4 linked regions of the Homo sapiens genome follow. The protein of the gene in region 3 interacts with the protein of the main gene of each other region in a biochemical or structural test. Each region holds a gene or a part of one and is shown on either strand. Other genes may lie near its edges.

Region 1 (7,745 bases), on a different chromosome or scaffold from region 3:
GTACCAAATTCATTTAGGAAGTAGCAGAGTTGGAATGGCTGGTCTCTAAAGGCTCCTTATAATCCTAAAAGTCCCTGGCTTAACCATTTGAAAGAATGATTTAAATCTTTATTCAAAAGCAGTTCATGTTGTGGAGAAATTGGAGCCTCCATACAGTGTTGGTGGGAATGTAAAATGGTACAGCTGATTTGGAAAACAGTCTGGCAGCTCCTCAAAAGCTTAAACAGTTATTATATAACCCAGCAATTCCACTCCTGGGTATATACCAAAAAAACCTGAAAACATGTCCACACAAAAACTTGTATACAAATGTTCACAGAAGCATTATACATAATCTCCAAAAGTAGAACGAACCCAAACATCCATCAGTTGAAGAATGAATAAATATTGTCTGTCTAGACAGTAAATTACTATTCAACAATAAAAAGAGATGAAGTACTGATATGATGTGACAAGACAGATTAACTTTGAAAACATTATGCTTAACGAAAGAAGCCAATCACAAAAAAACCCACACATTTTATGATTTCATTTATAAGAAATATCCAGCATAGGCAAATCTATAAAGACAAAGTAGATGAGTAGCTGCCTCAGGGTGGTTGTTAGGAAATGGGGAGTGACTACTAAGTATGAGAGTATGAGATTTCTCATGGAGTATGACATTTCTATTCTTTATTTCGGTAAAATATACATAACAAATTTCACCATTTCAACCATTTTTAACTGTGCAATTCAGTGGCATTAAGTCCATTTACAACATTATACAACCATCACCACTATCCATTTCTAAAACTCATTCATGGCCAGGCATGGTGGCTCACACCTGTAGTCCTAGCACTTTGGGAGGCCGAGGCGGGCGGATCACCTGGGGTCAGGAGTTCCTGACCAGCCTGGCCAACATGGCAAAACCCTGTCTCTACTAAAAATACAAAATTAGCTGGGCATGGTGGTGTATGCCTGTAATCCCAACTACTCAGGGAGCTGAGGCAGGACAATCACCTGAGCCCGAGAGGCAGAGACTGCAGTGAGCAGTCTCAAATTCCAGGCCTCAAGCGATCCTCCCATCTAGACCTCCCAAAGTGCTAGGATTACAGGTGCAGGCCACCGTGCCCATCCTCTGGGGGATTTTTAATTAAAGGATCATAAACATCTGCCAAAGCTATGAAACAGGCCTTCTGTGGACAGGCGCGGTGGCTCACGCCTGTAATCCCAGCACTTTGGGAGGCAGAGGTGGGTGGATCACAAAGTCAGGAGTTAAGCCTGGCCAATATTGTGAAACCGCGTCTCTACTAAAAATACAAAAATTAGCTGGGCATGGTGGTGGGAGCCTGTAGTCCCAGCTACTCGGGAGGCTGAGGCAGGAGAATCACTTGAACCCAGCAGGCAGAGGTTGCAGTGAGCCAAGACTGCGCCACTGAACTCCAGCCTGAGTGATAGAGTGAGACTCCATCTCAAAAAAAAAAAAAAAGGAAAGAAAAGAAAAGAAACAGTCCTCTTACGGTAATGAGGGTCACCTGAAAGTTTCTAGGTAAAGGCAGTGTATGCCCCAGGAAGGGCTGAGGAGTTCCAGATGTTACTGCTGTGAGCTCAGGGGCTCGCCACTGACCAGTCCCTTGACTTGCATCTTGAAAAATCAGAACTCACTTTGCGGCTCTAGCTTCTGGATGATGGGCAGAGCACTGGTCATGGCCACGGAGGTGATGGTCTTCACACCGTTCTCTGCCATCTCACACACAGACTTCAGGTAGGGATACTGGTCCTTTGTACTGAGATAGGCTGAGGACATGAGGTCATACGTGGAGCTCACCAAGGGCAGGTTGACCACCCGAGTCACCACACTCTGCAATCAAAGTAGGGAGGGTATGCTTATTAATCTCTCAAAACACAAAAGGAGAGAAAGTAGACAAAGGCTACTCAAAATTCATACCGGTTGTGGATCAACTGCAACGGATGCCATTTTTCTTCCTGGAGAAAGAAATCTGCAGAAAAGAGACTTATTTCAGAACACCGGGATAAGACTCTCCCAAATTCATTCCCCAACCCAAGCAAATGCTGATTACAAGTAGAGAAAAATGCAGGGTGAGCTCCCTGTAGTCTTCTGCACTTCTTTCCTCTCTCCAGCTCTCCAGGTCCCCCTCCTGAAAGACCCACACCCACACAACCCCACTCCCTCTTTTGAGGCAAAGTTTCAGAGCTTATGTGTAAACTTGCAATACTCAGGAGGGAGAAGTAAAGTTGTTGACATACTTCTCTTGTTTCTCCGAGTATCTGTTAACAAAAATGCTAGCCAAGCCGGACGCGGTGGCTCACGCCTGTAATCCCAGCACTTTGGGAGGCCGAGGGGGGTGGACTGCTTGATGTCAGGAGTTCAAGACCAGCCTGACCAACGTGGTGAAACCCCGTCTCTTCTAAAAATACAAAAATTAGCCGGGCGTGGTGGCGGGCGCCTGTTATCCCAGCTGCTCTGGAGGCTGAGGCAGGAGAATCGCTTGAACCCGGGAGGCGGAGGTTGCAGTGAGCCTAGATGGCGTCACTGCACTCCAGCCTGGGCGACAGAGCGAGACTCCGTCAAAAAAAAAATGCGGTTTTCTAACGCGTTTCCCTTTCGATAATGTCCCTTCGACAAATATTGTTTTCCCACAACCACCCAAGCAGGCCAAGGGACATTCGATAGCAATCGCCCTAAATCTGTTGGCAGGAAAGAAGCCTCAACGCACAAAGGCAAGGGTCGAAAGCGCGGGTTCAGCAGACCGCCCCTACCCAGCCAGGACCTGGAAGCCGCGAGGCGAGCGGGGGGTCTCGGACCATCACCCCCGCGTCCCGTCCACCTTTGAGCCCCGCGGGGAGCAGAGCAGCGGTCCCAAGGCCCCGGGGAGCCCCCCACCCCAACTGGGCGCCGCTGGGGGCCCGGGACCGGTTCGCTGGGGCACCCACTGGGCGCGCACTCACCGACGGACTGCAGCGAAAGGCGAAGAGCAGGCGCGTCCCGAAGACGACTCCGGCTGCCACGACCCGGTCAAAGCGTGGGGCCCGCGGGCGCCCGGGCTATAAACCCCGCCTCGCCGCCCCTCCCCAAGCCTCCGCAGCACGTGACCCGCGGCAGCACGCCCTGTCCCAAGCCCGAGTGTCACCCTCGGGCACGTCCCGGCGCCCTCCCCCAACGCCGGCCCTCCTAGAGTGGTGGGGGCCCGGTCGGGTTGAGAGGGTGTGCTGCCTGGGCGAGGGGCCCCGCCACGGGGAGAGGAGCCTGTCGGGAGCCGGGCGGGGGCCCGGCCTGGGGAGGCTGGGAGTTGGAGGTAGCCCTGCCTGGAGTCGGGGCGCTGCCTGGAGTCGGGGCGCTGCCTGTGGTCGGGGTCCTGCCTGTGGTCGGGGTCCTGAGAGGCCCGGGGCAAATGGGGATGGCGCCCAGGCCGGCTTTGGGGTTTTGAAAAATGCAAACAAATTCACACCAACTTGTTGAACGGCGTTAGTCCTCAGAATAGAACTCTAAAAATGGAAGCGGTGGCTCACGCCTGTAATCACAACACTTTGGGATGCTGAGGCGAGAGGATCTGTCGAGCCTAGGAGTTCGAGACCAGCCTGGCGAAGATTTTTATTTTATTTTAAAAAATAGCCCAGCGTGGTGTCGTGCGCCTGTGGCCCCAGCTACCTGCGAGGCTAAGATGGGAGGATCGCTTGAGCCTGGGAGGTCGAGGCTGCAGTGAGCCGAGATCGCGTGGCGCTGCACAATGGCTTCTACGCTGTTATTTTTAGCGAAGTAATAACTTTTAAAAGTTTTGTGGCGGCTGGGCGCGGTGGCTCACGCCTGTAATCCTAGCACTTTGGGAGGCCGAGGCGAGCGAATCACCAGCCTGGCCAACATGGCGAAACCCCGTCTCTCTCAAAATACAAAGAAAGCAGCCCAGCGTGGTGGCGCGCGCCTGTAGTCCCAGCTAGTCCCGGCTGTTTAGCGGGGTTGGGGGCAGGCGGGTGGGTGGCTGAGGTGAAAGAATCTTTTGAGCCCAGGTGGTCGAGGCTGCAATGAGTCGAGATCGCGCCACTGTACCACTGCACCCCAGCCTGAGTGACTGAGACCCTGTCTAAAAAAAAAAAAAGAAAAGAAAAAAGAAAAAGAAAACAAAAAACTTAACTCCAGATCACTCCAGAATGACAGCTGCCTAGGGTTATGTGACATAGGCAACTTTATACGTGCAGGGTTATGCATTGTTTTTCAAAGACAACTTAAAACGTCATCTGAGTCCCAGTTGTGTTTTTTTGTTGTTGTTGTTTTGTTTGTTTGTTTCTTGTGTAAAACGCACAGATTTGGAACGAGATTATTTGAGCAGACAAGTTGCGCCAGCGCCCGAGGCCAGATAGGGCTCGTGGGACTTCTTCCCCCGTGAGTGGCGGGGGATTTCCAGATGAAGCTGTCCGGCCTCGGCCCCCACTCCCCCCCCCCGGCCCCCGACACAGCTCGCAGGGAGGATACAGCAGAGAGGAGGGTTGGGAGGTGGGAAGGGAGCAGGCGCTGGCGCCGCGGGTCCGCCCCCTGAGAGGCCCACAGCGTTGGAGTCCCTGGCTCCAGCCAGGAGGGACTGGCTTTGTGAAGCTTTGGAGTTGTAACTGTAGGAAGCTCTCAGAGACTTTTACCCCAATTTGTTTTCATTTTCTGTTGTTGTTGTTGTTGTTGTTGTTTTTTGAGACGGAGTCTCGCTCTGTCGCCAGGCTGGAGTGCAGTGGCGCGATCTTGGCTCACTGCAACCCCAGCCTCCCGGGTTCAAGTGATTCTCTTGCCTCAGCCTCCCGAGTAGCTGGGACTACAAGCGCGGGCCACCACGCCCAGCTAATTTTTGTATTTTTAGTAGAGACGGGGTTTCACCATGTTGGCCAGGATGGTCTCGATCGCTTGACCTCGTGATCCGCCCGCCTTGGCCTCCCAAAGTGCTGGGATTACAGGCGTGAGCCACCGCACTCGGTCTAACCCAGTTTCTTAACCAATCTTGCATGCACACAGATACTGTTGATCATATTTAAAGCTCCAAACGGACCCATTAAAATGGTATCCCTTATCCCATTATACCTGAATATATAATAGTACTTACTTAGCAAGAAAAATTAAAGTATTTTTACCCCTCCTCCCCACATGTAATTCAAAATAAAATACTAAGCCATAAATACTGAACCATAAAATGTTATGAAGTCCAAAAATGTTCTGGTTTGGGTTTTTTCCTATGTTGCCATCTTCAGTGTTTTAAGTAATTAAATTATTATGTTTTTCTTTTCTTTTTCGTGTTCCGGCGCTGTTTGTTCCCTAAGCAAATGTTTGCTCTGCTTATTGATAATCCATCCCTGCTCTAATGACCTCTTACTTTGCATCAGAAGACTCTCGCCCTTTCACCTACAAAATGCCTCCATCTTTTCCTTTTTTGTTTTAAACCTGTGAGTCATTTCCTCACTTAAGGCTGAGCAAGCTTCTTTTTGCTTTTATTTGCCTGTGAAGCAGAGGGCCCCAGGGAATAATTTTGGGAACAAGAGACTCTTCAAGCCCACAAAGGATGAAGCACATCAAATTCTGCATCCCCAACTGTTTTTCAGCTTCGTGAGTCTGAGAACATGAAACCAGTGGCAAGAATAACACCCAAGGTGAGATGTGTAGTGAAGGAAACCAAAAAATTTTACCCCAAAATATACTTCTTTCACATATTTTGAGATATGGCTGTTCAGAGGACCTGCAGGCGGAAGTAGTCCTACGAAGCTGTTTGGTGTGTGTGTGTGTGTGTGTGTGTGTGTGTGTGTGTGTGTGTGTGTGTGTGAGAGAGGCTTGCAATATACAGAGAAAATCTGCATTGATGCAGCCAGGTGCTCTCTGAGGTTTTCCCTCGTCCAGATATAGGAAAGGTTAATGGACAGTCTGACACCTTTAAAGGTCTGAAAGAAACATCAACCATCTATTCTTTCCAATGGCTACTACCTGTGAGGTTTCATCTACATGAGCGGTCCCCAACCTTTTTGGCACCAGGGATAGGTTTCATGGAAGACAATTTTTCCATGGACCAGGGCAGGGGGATGGTTTTCAGGATGAAACTGTTCCACCTTAAATCATCGGCATTAGATTCTCATAAGGAGCCGCAACCTAGATCCCTTGCATGTGCAGTTCACAGCGGCGTTCTTGCTCCTAAGAGAACCTAATACCAGCTGCTGACCTGACAAGAGGCAGAGCTCAGGCGGTATTGCTCACTCACCCGCCACTCACCTCTTGCTGTGCGGCCCTATTCCTAACAGGAATGTAAATGGCCACAGTGTAAATGGCCCAAAGTTTGGGGACCCCAATCTACATAATGAAATGACTTTTGCTAGCCAAGTTTCCATTTCTGTCTTGCCACTAAATCCTGATTTACCACCATTCTCTGAGCCCCCAAACTTTCTGTAACCTCAGGAGGGGTATATAAGCTTCTGAGCCCACTGAGAGGTGGAGTAATTACTCTGTGGTTCCCCCACATGCCCAATAATACATTTACGTCTTTTTATAATAATACATGTATATCTTTTGACCTGTTAATTTGCTTTCCGCCAGTTGATTTTTCAGTGAACCTCCAGAGGACAAAGGAGACGTTTTTCCTTGGCCCCTGCAGTAGGTTGCCATTAGATAGGGTGTGTACAGTGTGGCAGTCCTGGGGAGTGGCAGGACATTACCAAGGATTTGGCCAACCTGAGATTCCTGGAGGTTTTCAGGGTTTTGTTTGGTTCCCTCCAGGATTCGATTTACCGTCATTCAGCATCTGGCTCCTGTCTCTTTCTCACCAGCTTCTTCTCCGGACTTTACCTGTGTGAAAGGAAAATAAATCTTGGGACCCCAAAATCACTGAACCAAAGGGAAAAGTCAAGCTGGGGACTGTGTCACACAAACCTCCTATTCAAAGATAAGCTACATAAGCCAGGCGCAGTGGTTCATGCCTGTAATCTCAGCCCTTTGGGAGGCTGAGGCAGGCGATCACTTGAACCCAGGAGTTTGAGACCAGCCTGGGCAACATGGTGAAATCCCGTCTCTACAGAAAATACAAAAGTTAGCCGGGTGTGGTGGCATGCGCCTGTAGTCCTACTTGCTGGGCTGAGGTGGAAGGATCATTTGAGCCTGGGTGGTCAAGGCTGCAGTTGGGGACCGCTATAATGGAGACACTGCACTCCAGCCTGGATAACAGAGTGAGACTCTGTCTCAAAAGAAAACAAAACAAAAAAGCTACATACCTCCCTCATAATTTGCCCACTAGGAAATTCCTTGTGGGCCCCAAGATCTTTACCCTAAAAAGTTCTGTTGAATTTCATCCTCACAATGTAAATTGATAGCTTATATTCACAGATGTGGGACATAGGACAGAACACAATAGCATCCCTCTGCTCACCTGAGACAAATTAATATTTGATTGCTCCCTCTGGCCTATGTTTATTTTATCTTATTTAAAAATGCAGATTCACTGAGCTAGATGAATGCGTGACTATTCCTCTACCCCCCCATCTCACATGTCAATGGCTAATCAAAGACTCAAAGGAATGCAACCATTTGCCTCTTACTGGCCCACACCCCTTAACAATTTCTCCTCTCCCCAGTATCCACTCCTTTCCCCTTTAGATATTGAAACCCTCAAAATCATCTTTGGAGAAAGGCACAGACCTGTCTCCCATGTGTGTGTCCTTACCCTTGGCAAAATAAACTTCTAAATTGATTGAGTCCTGTCTCAGATACTTTGTGTTGCACCTATCTTAAACTT
Region 2 (7,034 bases), on a different chromosome or scaffold from region 3:
GCACTGTGCACCTAGAAAAGCCAAAGACACTCAATGCCCACCATGAAAGTAGCTGAAGGGGGTGGGTGTGGGAGGGCTGTACCCTACAAAGCCACAGGGGCAGAGCTGCCCAAGACCATGAAAGCCACTCCCTGTATCAGTGTGCCCTGGATGTGAGACACGGGGTCACAAAGGAGACCATTTTGAGCTTTAAGATTTAATGACTGCCCAGCCGGATTTCGGACTTGCATGGGGGCCTGTAGCCCTTTGTTTTGGCCAATTTCTTCCATTGGTAATGGGAGTATTTATCCAATGCCTGTATTTCCATTGTATCTTGAAAGTAACTAACTTGCTTTTGATTTTACAGGCTGCTAGGCAGAGGGGACTTACCTTGTCAGAGATGAGACTTTGGACTTGGACTTTTGAGTTAATGACGAAATGAGTTAAGACTTTGGGGGCCTTGCTGGGAAGGCATGATTTGTTTTGAAATGGAATGGTTTTGAAAGGAACATGAGATTTGGGAGGGGTAGGGGGAGAAATGACATGGTTTGGCTTTGTGTCCCTACCCGAATCTCACCTTGACTTGTAATCCCCAAAGTGTTGAGCGAGGAACCTGGTAGGAGGTGACTGGATCATGGGGGCAGTTTCCCTCATGCTGTTCTCGTGATAGCGAGTTCTCAGGAGACATGATGGTTCTATAAGTGTGTGGCAAGTTCTTCCTTGGCTTGCTCTTCTCTCTCCTACCGCCTTGAGAAGAGGTCTGTTTCCCTTTCTGCCATGACTATAAGTTTCCTGAGGCCTCGTCAGTTATGCAGAACTGTGAGTCAACTAAACCTCTTTCCTTTATAATTACCCAGTCTCAGGTAGTATCTTTATGGCAGTATAAGAACGGACTAATGTACCGATTAACCGTTTAATGAACCCACAACCTTGGGTAGAACAAGGCCTACCCAAGGAAAAATTATTTCACTCAAAATACCACTAACACCTGCTGAGAAGCCCTGATCCAGGAAACAGAGGTCCTGAAGAGACCTAAGTGCTGTCACAAGGGTGTGCTGACACCCAGCAGTGAGAGAAGGCAGAGTGGCAAGGAGGGGCCAGCAAGGCAGGCCAAAGGCAAGTGCTGGCCCCAAGGGCCAAGTGCATTAAACATTTCAGGGGTGGGTGGGAACTGAATGTGAATGAGGTCAAGTACCAAGCCGACTAAGACCTTGGATTTCACAAGCCACACCCTGATGTTCTCCCTTTGTGTCTCTTCATGTGGAGTAGATCAGGAGAAATAACCACAGAACCTAATTTGCTAGGCTTCCTACACCCAGTCATCTAAAATCTAGTCCCATTCTTGTGTCTCAAGCCAAACCGCCTAATTATAAGAAAAAAATAACAGATTACGGCAGATAGACTGTAAACTGCTAAGCAGGTGGGGTGCGGGAGAAACACAATGTCAGTGGGCAACTAAGTAGAGGCCTGGCAGCAGAACACACAAAAGCTTTACAAATCACCTTCGTGGGACCATGAAGAAGAGCTCGTACCAAAGAGAGCTGGCTTTATTCTTCATCTGGAGTTCCCCTTTGGCACTCCCCTGCGTGACACCCTCCCTTAGGGAGGGGAAAGGGTGGTCTAAAAACTGCAGCTCCAGACCTGCTCCTGGCAATGCAGGCTCAGCACAGAGACCTGCCCGGGTGTGCGCTGGCCTTCCCGCCAGCTTTGTTATTCAACAGTGGCCTCTACTGGTCAATAAAGAAGTGCAGCAAATGAGTTCAGAGGCTGGAGGGAATGGTTCAGGGCACTTATTTTTTCCATTTTGTTTTTTGCTTCCAAAGCATATACACGCGTACACAAAATAATATACAGTTTCATGTTTACTGATAAGAAACAAGTTCAAAAAAAGAGACGAATCTTGGTATCAGGGAAATTTTCAGAGGCCATTCCTTGCCACTTAAAATAGTGGCTTAACAAATAGCTACCACACAAAGTGAAATATAACCTTTGACCCAGCAATTCCATTTCTAGGAATCCATCCCACAGATAACATTGGTGAAGATAAAAAATGTATACACAGGCTATTCATTTCAGGACTATTTGTAAAAACAAAAAGAAATTAAAAAGAACTTGAGTGTCTATCAACAGAGGACCAGTCAAATTATGATACATATACCAGTGGGGTACTTTGCAGCTATAAATACCTCTACATGCTAGTACAGAACAAACTTCAGGACATATTACATGAAAAAAAAGAAGGTGGAGAAAAGTGTGTGACTAGGGCCTTTAAGAGGTAATTAAAATTAATGTGGTCATTAGGGTGGACCTTAATCCAATCTGACTAATATCCTTTTAAGAAGAGATGAGGACACAGGCATAGAGGACAGAGCCTCAGAAGAAACCAGCCCTGCCCTATCCTTGATCTTGGACTTCCAGCCTCCAGGACTATGAGGAAATACATTTCTGTTGTTTAAGCCGTGCCCAGCCTGTGTGGTAGAGCAGCCCTAGCAAACACAGTGCTGAAACAACTGCACTGCCATTTACAAATAATTTACAAATAAACCTTGGCCTTTATCTCATACCATATGGAAAACTTTGATATGGATCCCAAACCTAAATACAAGAGCTGAAACTATAAAACATCTAGAAGAAATCATAGGAGAAAATCCTACTGCCACCTGATGTTTGGCAGTTATTTCTTAAATATAACACAATAGCAAGAAATATTTTAAAAGTCAATAATTGAATTTCATCGAAATAATAAAAACCCTTCTTTTTTTGTTTTTTTTTTTTTTTGAGACGGAGTCTCGCTCTGTCACCCAGGCTGGAGTGCAGTGGCGTGATCTCGGCTCACTGCAAGCTCCACCTCCCAAGTTCACGCCATTCTCCTGCCTCAGCCTCCTGAGTAGCTGGGACTACAGGGGTCCGCCACCATGCCCAGCTAATTTTTTGTATTTTTAGTAGAGAGGGGGTTTCACCGTGTTAGCCCGGATGGTCTCCATCTCCTGACCTCGTGATCCGCCCACCTCAGCCCACAAAGTGCTGGGATTACAGGCGTGAGCCACTGCGCCCAGCCAAAGAACTAAAACTTAAGAAAATCAACACAATTTTGAAAGAAGCAAAGACTCAAGTCACTTTATCTAAAAAGACATATGGATGGCAAATAAACACGTGAAATGATGCTCAACATCACGAGTCTTATGGAAATGCAAATGAAAACCTCAGTAAGGGCCGGGGGCTGTGGCTCATGCCCGTAAATCCCAGCACTTTGGGAGGCGAGGCAAACTCCTGAGGTCAGGAGTTAGAGACCAGCCTAGCCAACATAGTGAAATCCCGTTTCTACTAAAAATACAAAAATTAGCCAGGTGTGGTGGCACGCGCCTATAGCCCCAGCTACTTGGGAAGCTGAGGCAGGAGAATTACTTGAAGCCAGGAGGCAGATGTTGCAGTGAGCTGAGATCATGCCACTGCACTCCAGCCTGGATGACAGAGAGAGCACCTCAAAAATAAAAAATAAAAAAAAATAAATAAATAAAACAAAACCTCAGTAAGACTGCTATACACCCAATAGAATGGCTAAAATTTTTAAAACTGGAAGGGCGCAGTGGCTCGCAGTTGTAATTCCAACACTTTGGAAGGCCAAGACGGGCAGATTGCTTGGGCCCACGAGTTCGAGACAAGCCTGGGCAACATGGCGAAACCCTATCTCTACTAAAAATACAAAAATTAGCTAAGCGAGGTGGCATGCAACTGTAATCCCAGCTTCTTGGGAGGCTGAGGTGGCAGGATTGCTTGAGCCTAGGAGGCAGAGGCTGCCATGAGCCATGACTACACCACTGCACTCTAGCCCGAGTGACAGAGTGAGAACCTGTCTCAAAAAAAAAAAGAAAGAAAGAAAGAAAAAAGAAAACAAAAAACAACTGGCCACGCGAAGTGTCAGCAAGGAGGTGGGGCAACGGGAACACTTAATACACTGCTAGGGAAATGTGAACTAGAGGAAAACTGGCCGTTTCTTTAAAAATTAAACACACACTTCCCATTATAACCCTGGTTATTTACACAGGAGAAATAAAAGCATATATCCACAGAAAGACATGTACATTTAGGACATGCACACAGGGGGAAGATGGCCATGCGAAGATGGAGGCAGAGATTAGAATTACACTACCTCAAGCAAGAGAATGACAATAAACGCCAAGGATGACCAACAATCACCATTAGCTGGAAGAGGCAAGTAAGGGTTCTCCCCTCGAGCCCTCAAGAGGAAGAATGACCCCATCAACACCTTTATTTTAGATGTCTGGCCTCCAGAACAGTAAAAGAATAAATTTCTGTTGTGCTAAGCCCCCCATGGGCAGCCCACTTCTACCTGGGTCTATCTCTGACACTCCTAGGAAAGGCTGGATGATGAATGAAGACAGAACATCAAGACAAGACAGCAGTTTACAACAATTGAGTTCTTTCCTGGCTCTCCTTTTTTCCTGTTTATGAACCTAGGCAAAATCATCTTGTCTGTTGCTCAATTCCATAAAATCTGTAAAATTAGGGGGCTTGAACAGAATCATAGCCAAGGTCCCACCACCTCTGAATTTCTGCAGTTATATGACTACTCCCAAATACAATAAAGTGTGCATGAACATCTAACCAAATTTATCTAAACCCCTTCTATGTAGAGATTGATTCTGTCAAGTCCACCTTTACACTGGAATGTGCTACCTTAAAATACGTTATGAGGACAAACTAGATGTTAAGATACACACACAAAAAAAACCAGTAAATGATACACAAAAAAAACCCACTAAATTTTATCACATTATTAAGATACAGGAAAAACAAAGTCCCCTCAATAACACACTGTATTCATCTTCTGTCACTGCTGTAACAAATTACCACAAATTTAGTGATTTAAAACAATACTCATTGATGATCTCAGAGTTTCCAAGCGTCAGAAGTCTGGACACAGCATGGGCCAGCTAGTTCTCTGCTCAGAGTCTCACCAGGGCTGCCACTCCAAGTTCATTGAGGTTGCTGACAGAATTCACTTCCACGGGTCTGTTGGTCTGGGATCATTCTCAGCTTCTTGAGGCTGCCCGCCTTCCTTAGGTCATGGCTCCTTCTTCCATCTTCACAGCCAGCCACAGAAGGTAGAGATCTTGTCATATGTTGAATCTCTCTGACCACCCCCATCCTGCCTTCACTGACTGCTTTTGAGCCTTATGTTATTATTGGATCCTTCACGGTAATCCAGAATAATCTCCCACTCTTTAGGTCTGCTGATTACTAACCTGACTTGCATCTCCAAAGTCCCTCCACCGAAGTACTAGAAAGTGCTTGAATAACAAGGGCATGGGAATCTTAGTGAGGTATGTTTAGAGTTCTACCTTCTACACATAGTCCAAAATTTCATGTTAACATGTAAAAACACACAACACACTTCCGTGACAAACCTTCGGAAATCAACCATTATTTAGGTCTTATTACTGCAAACTAATTGACAATATAATTGAAATAACAGATGAAGCTTCTGTCAGGACAATAAAAGGGAGAACATATCTTTGCTAATGCAAATATCCTTAGAAAATGCAAGTTCAACAATGCAAAGACTGGCCTGAAGCAGCAGCCTGAACTTAATTTCCTATGCAGGGGTTTAATGATTTTCTTCTCAATAAAAATGAGAAGGCCGGGCGTGGTGGCTCACGCCTGTAATCCCAGCACTTTGGGAGGCCGAGGCTGGCGGATCACGAGGTCAGGAGATCGAGACCATCCTGGCTAACACGGTGAAACCCCGTCTCTACTAACAATACAAAAATTAGCCGGGCATGGTGGCGCGCGCCTGTAGTCCCAGCTACACGGGAGGCTGAGGCAGGAGAATGGCATGAACCCGGGAGGCGGAGCCTGCAGTGAGTCAAGATTGCGCCACTGCACTCCAGCCTGGGCGACAGAGCAAAACTCCGTCTCAAAAAAAAAAAAAAAAAAAAAAAAAAAGAGAAAATACCTGCTCACAGTCTAGCCTAACCCTAGAAATAGGGCTAAAATAAAACTAAAACAGAGACACAAACACAAACCAGGATACCAAGAAATGGTAGGTGTTCACACATCTGACCCACCAGCCAGGTTTCCCATGAGGACACAGAAGTAATAGTCCCCCACATCCAACCCTCTGTTCGAGTATGAACATTGTCAGAATCAAAATGGAGTCACTTTCGCCAAACCCTGACAACATAGAGGGAGGTCAAGATGAAGACAGAAAAATCAGCCAGGTGTAGGGGCACATGCCTGTAGTCTCAGCTACTCAGGTGGATTAAGTGAAAGGATAGCTTGAGCCCAGGTCAAGGCTTGCAATGAGCTGTGGTTGTGCCACTGCACTCCAACCTGGGTGACAGAGCAAGACCCTGTCTCAAAAAATAAATAAATAAATAATTATTATTTGCCAAAATATGCTTAATTTTTATTGCTAAAAAATGCTAACAATCATATGAGCCTTCAGCAGGTCATAATCTTTTTGCCGGTGCAGTCTTGCCCGGATATTGATGACTGCTGACTGATCAGGGTGGTAGTTGCTGAAGGCAGGAGTGGCTGTGGTAGTTTCTGAAAATAAGACAACAATTAAGTTTGCCACAGGGACTGACTCTTACTTTCACAAAAGATTGCTCTGTAGTCTGTGATGTTGTTTGACAGCACTTTACCCACAGTGGAACTTCAGTCAAAACTGGAGTCAATACCCTCAAACCCTGCGGCTGCTTTATCAACTAAATTTATGGAATAGTCTCAATCTTTTGTCATTTCAACAATGTTCACAGCATTTTCACCAGGAGTAGATTCCATCTCAAGAATCACTTCTTTGCTCATCTGTAAGACTCAACTCCCCATCTGTTCAAGTTTGATCATGAGATTGTAGCAACTGAGTGACATCTTCAGGCTCCACCTCTAATTCCAGTTCCCTTGCCATTTCTACCACACCTGCAGTTGCTTCCTCCCCTTAAAGTCATCCATGAGCATTGAAATCAACTTTTTCAAACGCCTGTTGTTGATATGGTGACCTCCCATGAATCACAGATGTTCTTAATGCCATC
Region 3 (7,034 bases):
AAAAAAAAAACAATGGAAACATCTTCTTACCACTGACAAAATAAATCTTCGGAGATGCCTATATATTGGCAAATGGATCATTTCCTGTACTGGATTGAAATCTGGATCATTCAAATTCCTTAGAAACCACAGGACACCAGGTCGAAGTACCTGCAAATATATTTTAAATACTATGAATATTCACCAATGTCTTCAAATTCTATATATGAGCTAAAACATTAACAGAAAGATAAGCACTTAGAATTATTCTGGCATCTAAAGTGGGCCCCAGAAAATGTACATGGTATTCTTAGGAAAGTAAGTTCCTAAACCAGAATCTTTATGAAAACTACCCTGTGTCTGATGATGTCCTTTGACATCATCATTCACTAGGGGCGGGGGAAAAAAAAAACATTCATTGGGTCCAATGTGTCAAGAAATCTAGACCTCTGAGACGAAAAATAAATACAACCATTACTATCGTAAAAGGGTTATGTTGCAATTTATAAATGTACTAAATAGACGGTCTGATTTGCCTTCCCCCTGTAAATGAAAATCATCACCCAAGAGGCTGCAGGTGATGGGGTAAAGGAGGAGTCTGGGTACTAGTTCTATGTGGTCCAAACTCACTGAGTTACCCTCTGTGTAACGCATCTAATCTGCCCAAACTTCTATTCTCCATCTCCTAAACAAGGGGTTACAGTGTGTGATTTCTAAGGTTCTGCCTAAGTTCCACATATTAAAATTTTATATCAACAAAAACCACCACACTGATAAAATGAAAGAAATCATTATAAAGCATTTTATTCACTTAATGAAGTAATCTGGAGTTCACATATAATTACATTTTTAAGAAACACATTTCTGTACTTGCTTTAGTTCTCAATCAGTTGTTTCAAAGAAAGAATGAAAGCTTTAGTTACCAAGAGAATTTACTGAAATTATACCGTATGATTCAGGAGAATGCTTTGGTCCCTGACCCCTCCTCCTCTTCCTCAAATCTTTCAAAGAACAAAGTACACCAAGAGCAGCATTCAGCCTTTGTGCTTTTGTGTTCCCTTCTCACTGGAATTGTCAACCTGGTCCTCCACACCCTGCACATCTCCATCACCCGTCTCCGTGTAAACCAACATTTTCAATGCTGTATTCATTTTCAGGCTATAAAATCGAGGAGAACAGGAATTGTGCCTTTGTTTCTCACTGAAACCCCAGAATGCAGTATAGTGTCCGGCACACAGTGACCATTCAGTATTTGGGGAATGACTGAGCTTGAGATGTACACTAATCAAATACTCAACTGCTTTCATCATCTTCAAATCACTAAGAACCAGATTAGAAACATAGAACTAATAAAGGTATCAGGCCAGGCACAGTGGCTCACACCTGTAATCCCAGCACTTTGGGAGGCCAAGGTGGGTGGATCATTTGAGGTCAGGAGTTCAAGAACAGCCTGGCCAACATGGTGAAACCCTGTCTCTACTAAAAATACAAAAATTAGCCGGGCATGGTGGTGGGTGCCTGCAGTCCCAGCTACTTGGGAGGTTCAAGCAGGAGAATCACTTGAACTTGGGAGGTGGAGGTTCCAAGATCATGGCACTACATTCCAGCCTGGGCAACAGAGCAAGACTCAGTATCAAAAAGTAAATAAGTAAATAAATAAATAAATAAATAAATAAATAAATAAATAAATAAATAAAGGTAATCCATCAGGCCAGTGAACTGGAATCATAAAGGACCCTCATTGTAATTCTATACTTAAGGCGCCTAAATCAAAATGATTTTACATGTCTGATCCTGCAAAACCATATCCTTTTGGTTATTTCCAGCAGTACAGTTCCTTGAAGTCTGAGACACACTCACATCATACAAAATTCCAAGAGTCTGTATTAGAGGATGGCTAAAGTATATACGAAGTGTGACAAAATGAGTACTCTTATCTTTTTCCTCAGTTGAATCGTCTTTCAAACTCAGACAGAAATATTAAAACTTGCCAATTATGGAGACAAACAACTGAAACAGTTTAAAGTAATTAAGTCAAAGTCCCCTATAAGTTATTCCCTCTTAGAATAAAATAGTAGAGAATATGATTTAGGTAGGAAATCATCATAGCCTTTGAGACATGACTGGTGGTGAAAGCAAAAGTCCTTTTTATAAATGTACAGCATCAGCATTTCCCTGTGGACTTACCTCTCTCAGTAGTAGAATGAAGGAGGCAAAGTAGAAGACATATACCATTCCCACTAGCCAATGCAGAAACATGGTAGTACCTGGAGCCGACTGAAAGCTCAGTTCTCGATCTTTCAGAGTAGCATCAAACATTTCCTGAGACAAAAGAGGACAGGTAAGAGAAATCTGTGCCCCCTACATTTGCCAAGTTAACATTTTCATCTTCTAGGAAATAAATAATCAATATGCATGCAAGGAACAATTCCTAGAACTGCAGTTCACTTAATGTCATTCCACGGTGTCACAGAACTATATACAAGATTGGCTACTGCTTCAAATATAAAGAATGATAAACCAATTAGTAAAAGCTTTATTAATACTGATTCTATTAAAGAACTATTTTTGATGAATGTAAAAAATTTTCTTGGTTATAGGTCTGCATTCTTGAGAAGTTTTAAAAGTAAGGTATGGGAGGGTAAATGTTATCTCAGAACCAAAGGCAGCTTTTCTACACATAAAATATTTTTGAAACAATCAAAAACTGATTATCACTAACAGCAATTAAAGAGTATAATCAAGACTGAGCATATTAGTTAAATCAAATGATTAGGGTTAAATTTATTACTACAAAGACAGTTTCCTTATCAAATTATTCTCTATGTATATAATGTCTTGGCATTATCTACACAAATTTACGACAGCAAAATGGGCAATAAAATCCTCCACTATTAGAAAGATTCCACCCAAACTATCCTGACATCAAAAATTTGCACAAAGCCTCAAAAACTCAGGTACTCAAGAAAAATTAACATTAAGATCCTATACTGATACACATGCCAAAAGAATAAGCAAATTATCAAATATTTGCTTTCCTTTAAAAAGAATACATGCTGAAGACTTCCTCTTTTGAAGCCCTTAAATTATGCTATTATACAATAATGAATACTCAACTTACCAAGGAACAGATATCCAGCCACCAACCACAAATGAGAGGGAATACTCCAATTTCTACCACCACTAACAAAGAGACCTTAAGTGAAAATAAAGGTCATCAGTATCACCCAAATGTAGGAGAAATCATTTCCAATTTTAAGTTATAACAGGAATTACCTTAACAACAATATAGCAGACTCCCAGTAAGCGACGAGATCTATGAAATTTCACAAGAGTTGCCAAGCCCTACAGCATCAGGTCAAGGAAAAACTGAGTATTTAAAGGTACAATGAAACAGGTAACTACTTAGCCAACATTTAGTATTTTTTGACAGAATTAATTTATTTCACATTTTGTCCACACTGACCCTTACTGCAAATACCTACAACTTTTACTAAGAGGACAAGGATAGACAAGTTTCGCCATTAATGAAGAGTTCTTTGGTATGAATAATATTAGTGTACACCCAAGTTGGTTCATTAAAGGATACATGACAAATTATCAGTGTTATTGCTAAAAGTATATACCCAACTATGGTTGTGATTAGGCCTTCAAAATGAGATGCTTGGACCTGGAAATAAGAAAAAAGTAAATAAAATTTAATTTTACAACATGTTCTACACCCCGGTTTTCCCATATTAAACAATCTAAATGACTAAAAGAGAATTGTTGAGACAATTTATAACCAGGAAACAACTGTAAAATCTGCTTTGGATGACATCTCTGAAAACCAAATTCTCTCACTGACTGTTATATATTACTAAAAAATGAAGAAAAATTAAATAACACTTTACCCAAGGAGACAAAATAACAGTAGAGTGAATTAAATTTTACAAAAACAAGAGCACTGTAATACAACAGCCTGCCCTCTACTCTCACTCTAAAGCAGATTTGCTAAAGGCTAACCACTGAAAGCAGGAACACACTGCCCAAGTCACCCACCAGCTGGGTAATATCCTAGCCACCTCATTTCCTACCACTAGAAGTAACTGTTCAAGTTTCCCTTGCTCTGCAAATCTGTCCCATTCTCAACTTATAGAAAGAATTTTGAAAGTAACAGTGCCTGTCGGTATTTTTTGATTCCTGAGTTTCAGATAGCAAGTGGCAAAAGTTTGGAAAGTCAAAATTTTTCAAAACACTTACCTGAACCTTTCAAGTTCTTGCATTCAACTAGTGAGAATCAGAGGTGTACTAAATATGAGAAGACTTCAGAACGTGATCTCTCAGATCTCAAATATACAAACTGAGCATATGATCCCAGATAGTCAGCTTTTCCATAAAAGACTAAATTGTTCTAGGGCCCCAACAGAGAAGTAATAATCCTTCCAAAATTTATTTACCTCTGGAAAATACTGATAAAATGTCAAAACTAAAGCACTCTAGAAAACACTACAACCCGTCATTCCAAAATATTCTACCCTTTTTAAATTGATTGATATATTGTTACTTTTCTAAATTCAGCAGGGGGCACCTGGGGAAAGGGAAAGAAGAGAACATACAGGTTCTTGAGATGGACAGAAAATCAGCCTGTGGGAAACTTTCCCACGGTATGCCTCAGGCCCACCCAGCTGACTGGATTTCAGAGCACATTTTCATTAGTTGGCAACATGACCACTATCTCTTGAGCCACTGTTATTTTTTTTAAAAAAGAATGAGACGGTATTGCCTAACTATTCCCTTGCATAATGCCAATGAAGAAATGATGTAACTCTTTAGAATACTATTTTATTAATAATCACATTTGGGAGTAATGAATGAAAGTAACTTTGTAAAAGTATTATACTCACGTGTTCTTCAAATCCCAAACCAACAAGGGAGAAATGACCAATATGGTAAGGGCAAAATGCTAAAAAGGGGGAAAAAATTCCATGAAAACTCCGACATCAAAACAATGAACACTCCTACTACAATTCCCCACTAAAAGGAACTAGGGCTTCTTGGAGAAATGAAAGATTCCAGAACTAGGCTAAAAATACACTGCCTAGGACATTCTCTGTAACTAGAGAACAACAAAGCTATTAAGGTCTAATAGGGCCATGCCAAATCAACACAGAAACCATTGTGAAAACAGGCCAAAGAGAGGATAATATGAGCATCAAAAAGAATAATGACCAAAACTGATGGAAAAACACTGAACATACACAAATCCATGAGTTTATGATGCTCAAAAAAGGAAAAGTCCAAAATAATAATCACGAAAAGAGAAAAAGCAACATCAAAGAAAACACTTTGATGTTTTGGAAGCAGTTAGCACACCCATGTGAATAGTTAATACACCAATTCCTTATTCTGAAAACCAAAATTAATGGGAAAAATATGAGCATCTGTCCTACTTGCCCCGGACAGACAGGTTTGGGTTGACTGAATAGTCCCAAATTGATAAGAATTTCTTCTTCTTTCAGAAAAGTCAGCCAATAAATATAAAAAATGACTGTTTAAAATATCACTCCCAACAGATTATTTTATAATGGTAAAGGGAAAAACAAAACCTAAGATTAGAGGCCCAGGTTGATATCAGCTGAATCCAGTGATAAAAGTGGATAATCCAACATCATGTATCTCAGCTCCTCACATATACTATTAATAGGCACAGTGTGACCAGTGATGGATTTGTCCCAGATGTATTCAACCTGAATCTAATAAGGCCCTTAGATCTGACTTCCAGTTTAAGAGAAATATGGGAGACAAAGGATAAAGGCAGAGGACATCCAGGAAGCAGATGGACAGATGTAAAACATGACATGCTGCAAGAACAGTTAACCTAATCCCAGCAACAAATCAATGGCCAAATAGGGTGAGTTGGGGGAAGCAAAGAGAAGAGTACTCTAGATTAAAAGACTAATAACTTATAACTTAACAACTAAAAGTAATATGTGGACCTTATTTGGGTCTTCATTCAAAGAAACCAACTGCAAAATGGTATGTAAGGGACAACCCAGAGAGTTTGAATATGATGGATTATTAGGAAATACCAAATTCTAGTAATTTTGTAAGGTGAGATAATGGCATTATAGCTAAGTATGAAAGTATTTTTAAAACCTTTATAGCAAGAGAATTTTTATAGTCTTCTTTTTCCTCAAGTCTTTCTGGCTAAATTTTACTTCATTCCTAATAATAAAATATAGTTATCTTTTCTTTATGGTAGAAATAAATCGACAGCGCAGTAGATTACCAGGGGAGTGGGAAACTCAATCATGAAGACAGAAGTCAGAGTGAACCTACTAGGGATCTGGCCTCTAACCCTTTCTGACTATTTCATGGGTAAGAATATTTTTGAACATGTATTTCCAATATATTTAAATTTATTTATAAATTATATATACGTATTAGTTTACTAACATATTGTGTGTAATATAAAGCAGAAGAAATTTAATAAGGTAAGGAAAAAAACTGTATGTTGAATTTTGCCTATTTTGCTCTCATATCCCAGTCTGAAGATGACTCAACTAGGCCCCTGGGAGGGGCAAGTTTTAACTCTATTAGCAGATGTATTAAATAATTATTAACCTTAAATACCAGTTGCAACAATCAATTTCCATCCCATTACACACAAACTAATGGAAAGGCATCCTGAAATTAAGGACAATTTCTCAGGATTGTCACCTTCTAGTGGAAGACCACAGCTTTGTCAAATTATATTTCTGCAAAGCATATGACCACAAGAGCCAAAAAACTGCCTGTAGAAAACTTCCAACAGAGCAACCCATGCAAGAAAAAAACAGGAGGGTGTTTAATCCCAATGATTAAAAGAAAAAGTATGTTCCTAATGGAAGAAAACTTGTTTCATTTCAAAAGATTCCAAAAGATTCTAACTATATAATAAAACATAAGTTTACTAAGAAAATTCTTTTCGCAATATAAGCTCAGGAGGTTGGATTAGAAAAAGCTTTACTTAGATTTGATTTCTATAAATCAGAGTTCTTATTTGTATAATTCATGTTTTAAATGTGACCTGG
Region 4 (3,477 bases), on a different chromosome or scaffold from region 3:
TAGCCTCCACCTGCCGGGCTCAGGCAATCCTCCCACCTCAGCCTCCTGAGTAGCTGGGACCAAAGGTGCACATCACCACACCAGGTAGTGTTTTGTATTTTTTGTGAGATGGGGTCTCACTACATTGCCCAGGCTGGGTTCAAGAGATCCACCCCTCAGCCTCCCAAAGTGCTGGGATTATAGGCGGCAGCCACTGCACCCGGCAGTAGCGTGTTGAGTAAACACTCTATTCGTTAGCATTCCCCCTCCCATGAGCCTCGGGAGACACCGGGCTTTGGAAGTGATGCTGGCGGTCACAGAAGCGGAGATCAGGGCAGGGCTGGCATCCAGTACGGGATGGGGAGAGAGCCCTGCAGAGGGCTCTACACCATGGCTCCAGCGACGCGATTCCCTGTGGGGACCCACCTGCCCTGCAGCTGCCACACCACCCCAGGCCAGCAGGTGTGACCCCCTGGTCACGGGCCACCCCAGCCCTGAGCACAGAGATGGACACACATCCCGGCCCACACAGACACAAGCAGCATGAAATTCAGAAATAAAGATATAATGAAAGACCTTTTTTTTCCACAAGAATAGGTTAAATACATACAATTGGTAAATTATAGAGCAATTCTGAATAAACTGATCAAAAAACGAAGAAAGATGAGCGCGTGCGGGCTGGGCTTGTCTCACGCCCGCCTCCGGACAGGGTGGGTTTCTTGCCGGCGGCCGTGCCCCACCTCGACGCGATGCACCTGCGGTACATCCCACCCAGGCGAAGTCACGGAACAGACGCAGAAGAGGGGAGACGGCCGAGACCCGGGGAGCCACGCGGCCCGAAACAGCCCCTGCTGGCTCTGGCGTCTTTCCGGGCCGGGGTGCCCCTCTGCCATGTTCCGTGGACAGCGAACACCCGGGCCGGAGCCATTACCTACTGTGAAGGCCAGCGCAGGGGGCACGGGATGTGAGGGAGGCCCCCGAGTGCACGGGGCCTTCTGCAGGGACTCCGGTCCTCCGCCTTCCACCAGCATAGGAGGACGGGCTTCTGGCCCACCGGACATAAGGAATTCAGAGAAAAGGCTCTGCAGGTACCCAAGGCCCCCCAGCCTGCAGCACCGAGGGGCGCCCAGGAGGCCCGGCCTGCGGAGGGCACCGGCAGCCCCCGCCCCGCTCGCGGCCGCCGCAGTCAAGGGCGACTTGTGGTTGGAGTGAGCAGGCTCCTGGCTTCCAGGGCAGCAAAAACCCCCAAGCACTTTCTAGAAGGAATGTGTTTCATTCTGACTGTAAACACATTTGTAAATGCTGAGACCAAACCCCGACTTATGGATCCTGAGCCACGGCCGTCACTGGCCCCGCTAAGCCTCATCACCACACGGCCAGGCCAGACCAGCACCCGCGGACGCCAGCTCCACCCCTGGGCCCCGAGGTTCCCACCCGCTGAGGAGCCGGGAGCTCCGAGAAACGCGCCAGGAGCTCCAAGAACGCAGGAGCAGCCCGCGGTCGGCAGCAAGTTTGCATTTCTAAGTGACCACATCTAATAAAATGAAAAACGGGTTTACTAAAACAGGTCCAAAGACAACACGGAAGATAAGCTACAAATCCAGCACACAAGGCCCACCCACACCAGCCCCAGCGGCCCGTGGCCAGGACAGGGCTGAGGCTCCAGTCTCCTCCAAAGCCCAGTCACACATTTTGGTTTTTGCTTCCCCTTTCAGGTTTTTAAAAGCTAAACCTAGGAGCCTGGTGGGTCTGCCTGTGCTGGGCAGTGTGTCCAGCCTGCCGAGGTCACGCTCTGGTGCGCGGTGCCCTCAGTGGCGCCTTGGGTCTCGGCGCCTGGGCCTCACTCCTGCGCGATGCTCCTCAGCACGTACTTGACCGTGTAAGCAAAGGCTGCAAACCCAACTATCACAAACAAGTTCGCCAGGGCGCCACCCAGGAGTCCGTGGTGCCGGTTGGCCTGCTGGAGCCCTGCGAGGTTTGGGACGGCCCCCGGCGCATGCCCGTTGAGCAGCTGAATCCCGTTCTGGACGAGGTGCGTCTCCCCGTCTGGAACCACGTCTGGCAAGGGGAGAGTCTGGGGTCTGCTACTGAGTTCGTCTTGTGCTTTCTGTTTTTGTTTAATCTCCTAAGAGAAAAACAGCGAGAAAAGCAGCTGGTCTCCAACCAGCGCCTTTCAGGACCAGCACTCCCGTTCTCAGGAGTCCACGGTCCACCACCAAGAACCAAGCCCTAGGCTGTGTCAAATTCCGACCCCATCTCACAGGTGAGGGCCCGAGCGTGGCCGGCCTCACTGGCCCTGTGCCCCTTGGCCCCTGCACTCAGGCAGACCAGAGCAAGGCTGAGCCACAGAGGCCAAGACCAGGGAGCACTCCAGTCCCAGTCCCACATGGCAGCCGCTGTGCCTCCCAGCTATCCCCAGACACCACCCAGCTGGCTGCTCAGAACCACGAGCTCCACGCCCCTGTGGGACAGGCCCAGCCCCCGGCCCACCAGCACAGCTGTCCGCAGGCCACCCCCCAGAGCCCAGGCTTTCTGCCTCCCCTGCCTCGGGGCTCCTGGGGGAGAGGAGCCATCCCCTGGGGAGGTCTGCAGCTTCAGGACACAGATTTTACTCTTTGGAAAGAGGTGAAACTCAAGTGTTTTAACGCAGGGGAAGGCGAAACCCACTTCCGTCTTTCTTACCTCCACGACTTCAGGAAATAATTCACAAAAGACTTTATCTTTCAAATTAAATGCTAAACTCTGCACTGCCAGTTGTCTTTTCTAGGAAGGAAGGGAAGGGAATCAGCCAGAAAACTAATTTCAATTCTTTCAAGATTCTAAAAACAGATGATTTCAAAGTCAAGGGCTGCAGTCTTCGTGTTGCAGAAAGCATTTAATAAGCACACTCTTCACAGCAAACTAACTTATAGTCTTACAAAGCCTTCTTAATCTTCCCCCCATCAATTCATGATATCACACTTGATTCCTATTAAAGACAGGGAAAAACAAGCCACCAAAGCACCGGGCTCCCCGCTGACAAGGCCCGGGCCGTCTGTGCAACTGGTACCGCCTTGGCCCACCCCAAGATCCCAAGGAGGAGCCCCTGGCGGGTGTGGATGAGGCTGGATGTGGATAAAAGCAAGACCGAGAGGCAGCGGGGAACACGAGGCCACAGAGCAAAGCAGTCTCCACGACAGTGCCTGGGACAAGGTGGGAACTCCACCCAGCCCCGCCTACTGAGAAGAAAGGCAGCTGCGGCCGGGCGCGGTGGCTCACGCCTGTAATCCCAGCACTTTGGGAGGCCCAGGCGGGCGGATCACGAGGTCAGGAAATCAAGACATCCTGGTTAACACGGTGAAACCCCGTCTCTACTAAAAATACAAAAAAAAAAATTAGCCGGGCGTGGTGGCGGGCGCCTGTAGTCCCAGCTACTTGGGAGGCTGAGACAGGAGAATGGCGTGAACCCCGGGGGGCGGAGCTTGCAGTGAGCCGAGATTGCGCCACTGCACTCCAGCC

The links.
Region 1: the proteins of MARCHF6 (region 3) and PLIN2 form a complex in vitro, tested with the Homo sapiens proteins (one study listed by BioGRID).
Region 2: the proteins of MARCHF6 (region 3) and UBE2G2 form a complex in vitro, tested with the Homo sapiens proteins (2 studies listed by BioGRID).
Region 4: the proteins of MARCHF6 (region 3) and UBE2J2 form a complex in vitro, tested with the Homo sapiens proteins (2 studies listed by BioGRID, with this or other methods).

The regions. Positions count from the first base shown.
Region 1 is NC_000009.12:19,124,470-19,132,214, forward strand, and holds the start of PLIN2 (perilipin-2), read right to left. Parts: upstream 3,024-7,745; 5' UTR 2,950-3,023; intron 1,980-2,949; 5' UTR 1,958-1,979; coding exon 1,928-1,957; exon of another isoform or gene 1,841-1,927; coding exon 1,645-1,840; intron 1-1,644. UniProt on the Homo sapiens protein: Structural component of lipid droplets, which is required for the formation and maintenance of lipid storage droplets.
Region 2 is NC_000021.9:44,791,796-44,798,829, forward strand, and holds part of UBE2G2 (ubiquitin-conjugating enzyme E2 G2), read right to left. Parts: intron 1-7,034. UniProt on the Homo sapiens protein: Accepts ubiquitin from the E1 complex and catalyzes its covalent attachment to other proteins. In vitro catalyzes 'Lys-48'-linked polyubiquitination. Involved in endoplasmic reticulum-associated degradation (ERAD).
Region 3 is NC_000005.10:10,398,674-10,405,707, reverse strand, and holds part of MARCHF6 (E3 ubiquitin-protein ligase MARCHF6), read right to left. Parts: intron 4,925-7,034; coding exon 4,866-4,924; intron 4,796-4,865; exon of another isoform or gene 4,222-4,795; intron 3,650-4,221; coding exon 3,569-3,649; intron 3,345-3,568; exon of another isoform or gene 3,325-3,344; coding exon 3,256-3,324; intron 3,176-3,255; coding exon 3,101-3,175; intron 2,302-3,100; coding exon 2,167-2,301; intron 1,138-2,166; coding exon of another isoform or gene 1,087-1,137; exon of another isoform or gene 768-1,086; intron 151-767; coding exon 31-150; intron 1-30. UniProt on the Homo sapiens protein: Endoplasmic reticulum membrane-associated E3 ubiquitin ligase that plays a critical role in mitigating endoplasmic reticulum stress, the regulation of cholesterol and lipid homeostasis, and ferroptosis.
Region 4 is NC_000001.11:1,253,384-1,256,860, forward strand, and holds the end of UBE2J2 (ubiquitin-conjugating enzyme E2 J2), read right to left. Parts: intron 2,743-3,477; coding exon 2,662-2,742; intron 2,105-2,661; coding exon 1,820-2,104; 3' UTR 529-1,819; downstream 1-528. UniProt on the Homo sapiens protein: Catalyzes the covalent attachment of ubiquitin to other proteins. Seems to function in the selective degradation of misfolded membrane proteins from the endoplasmic reticulum (ERAD).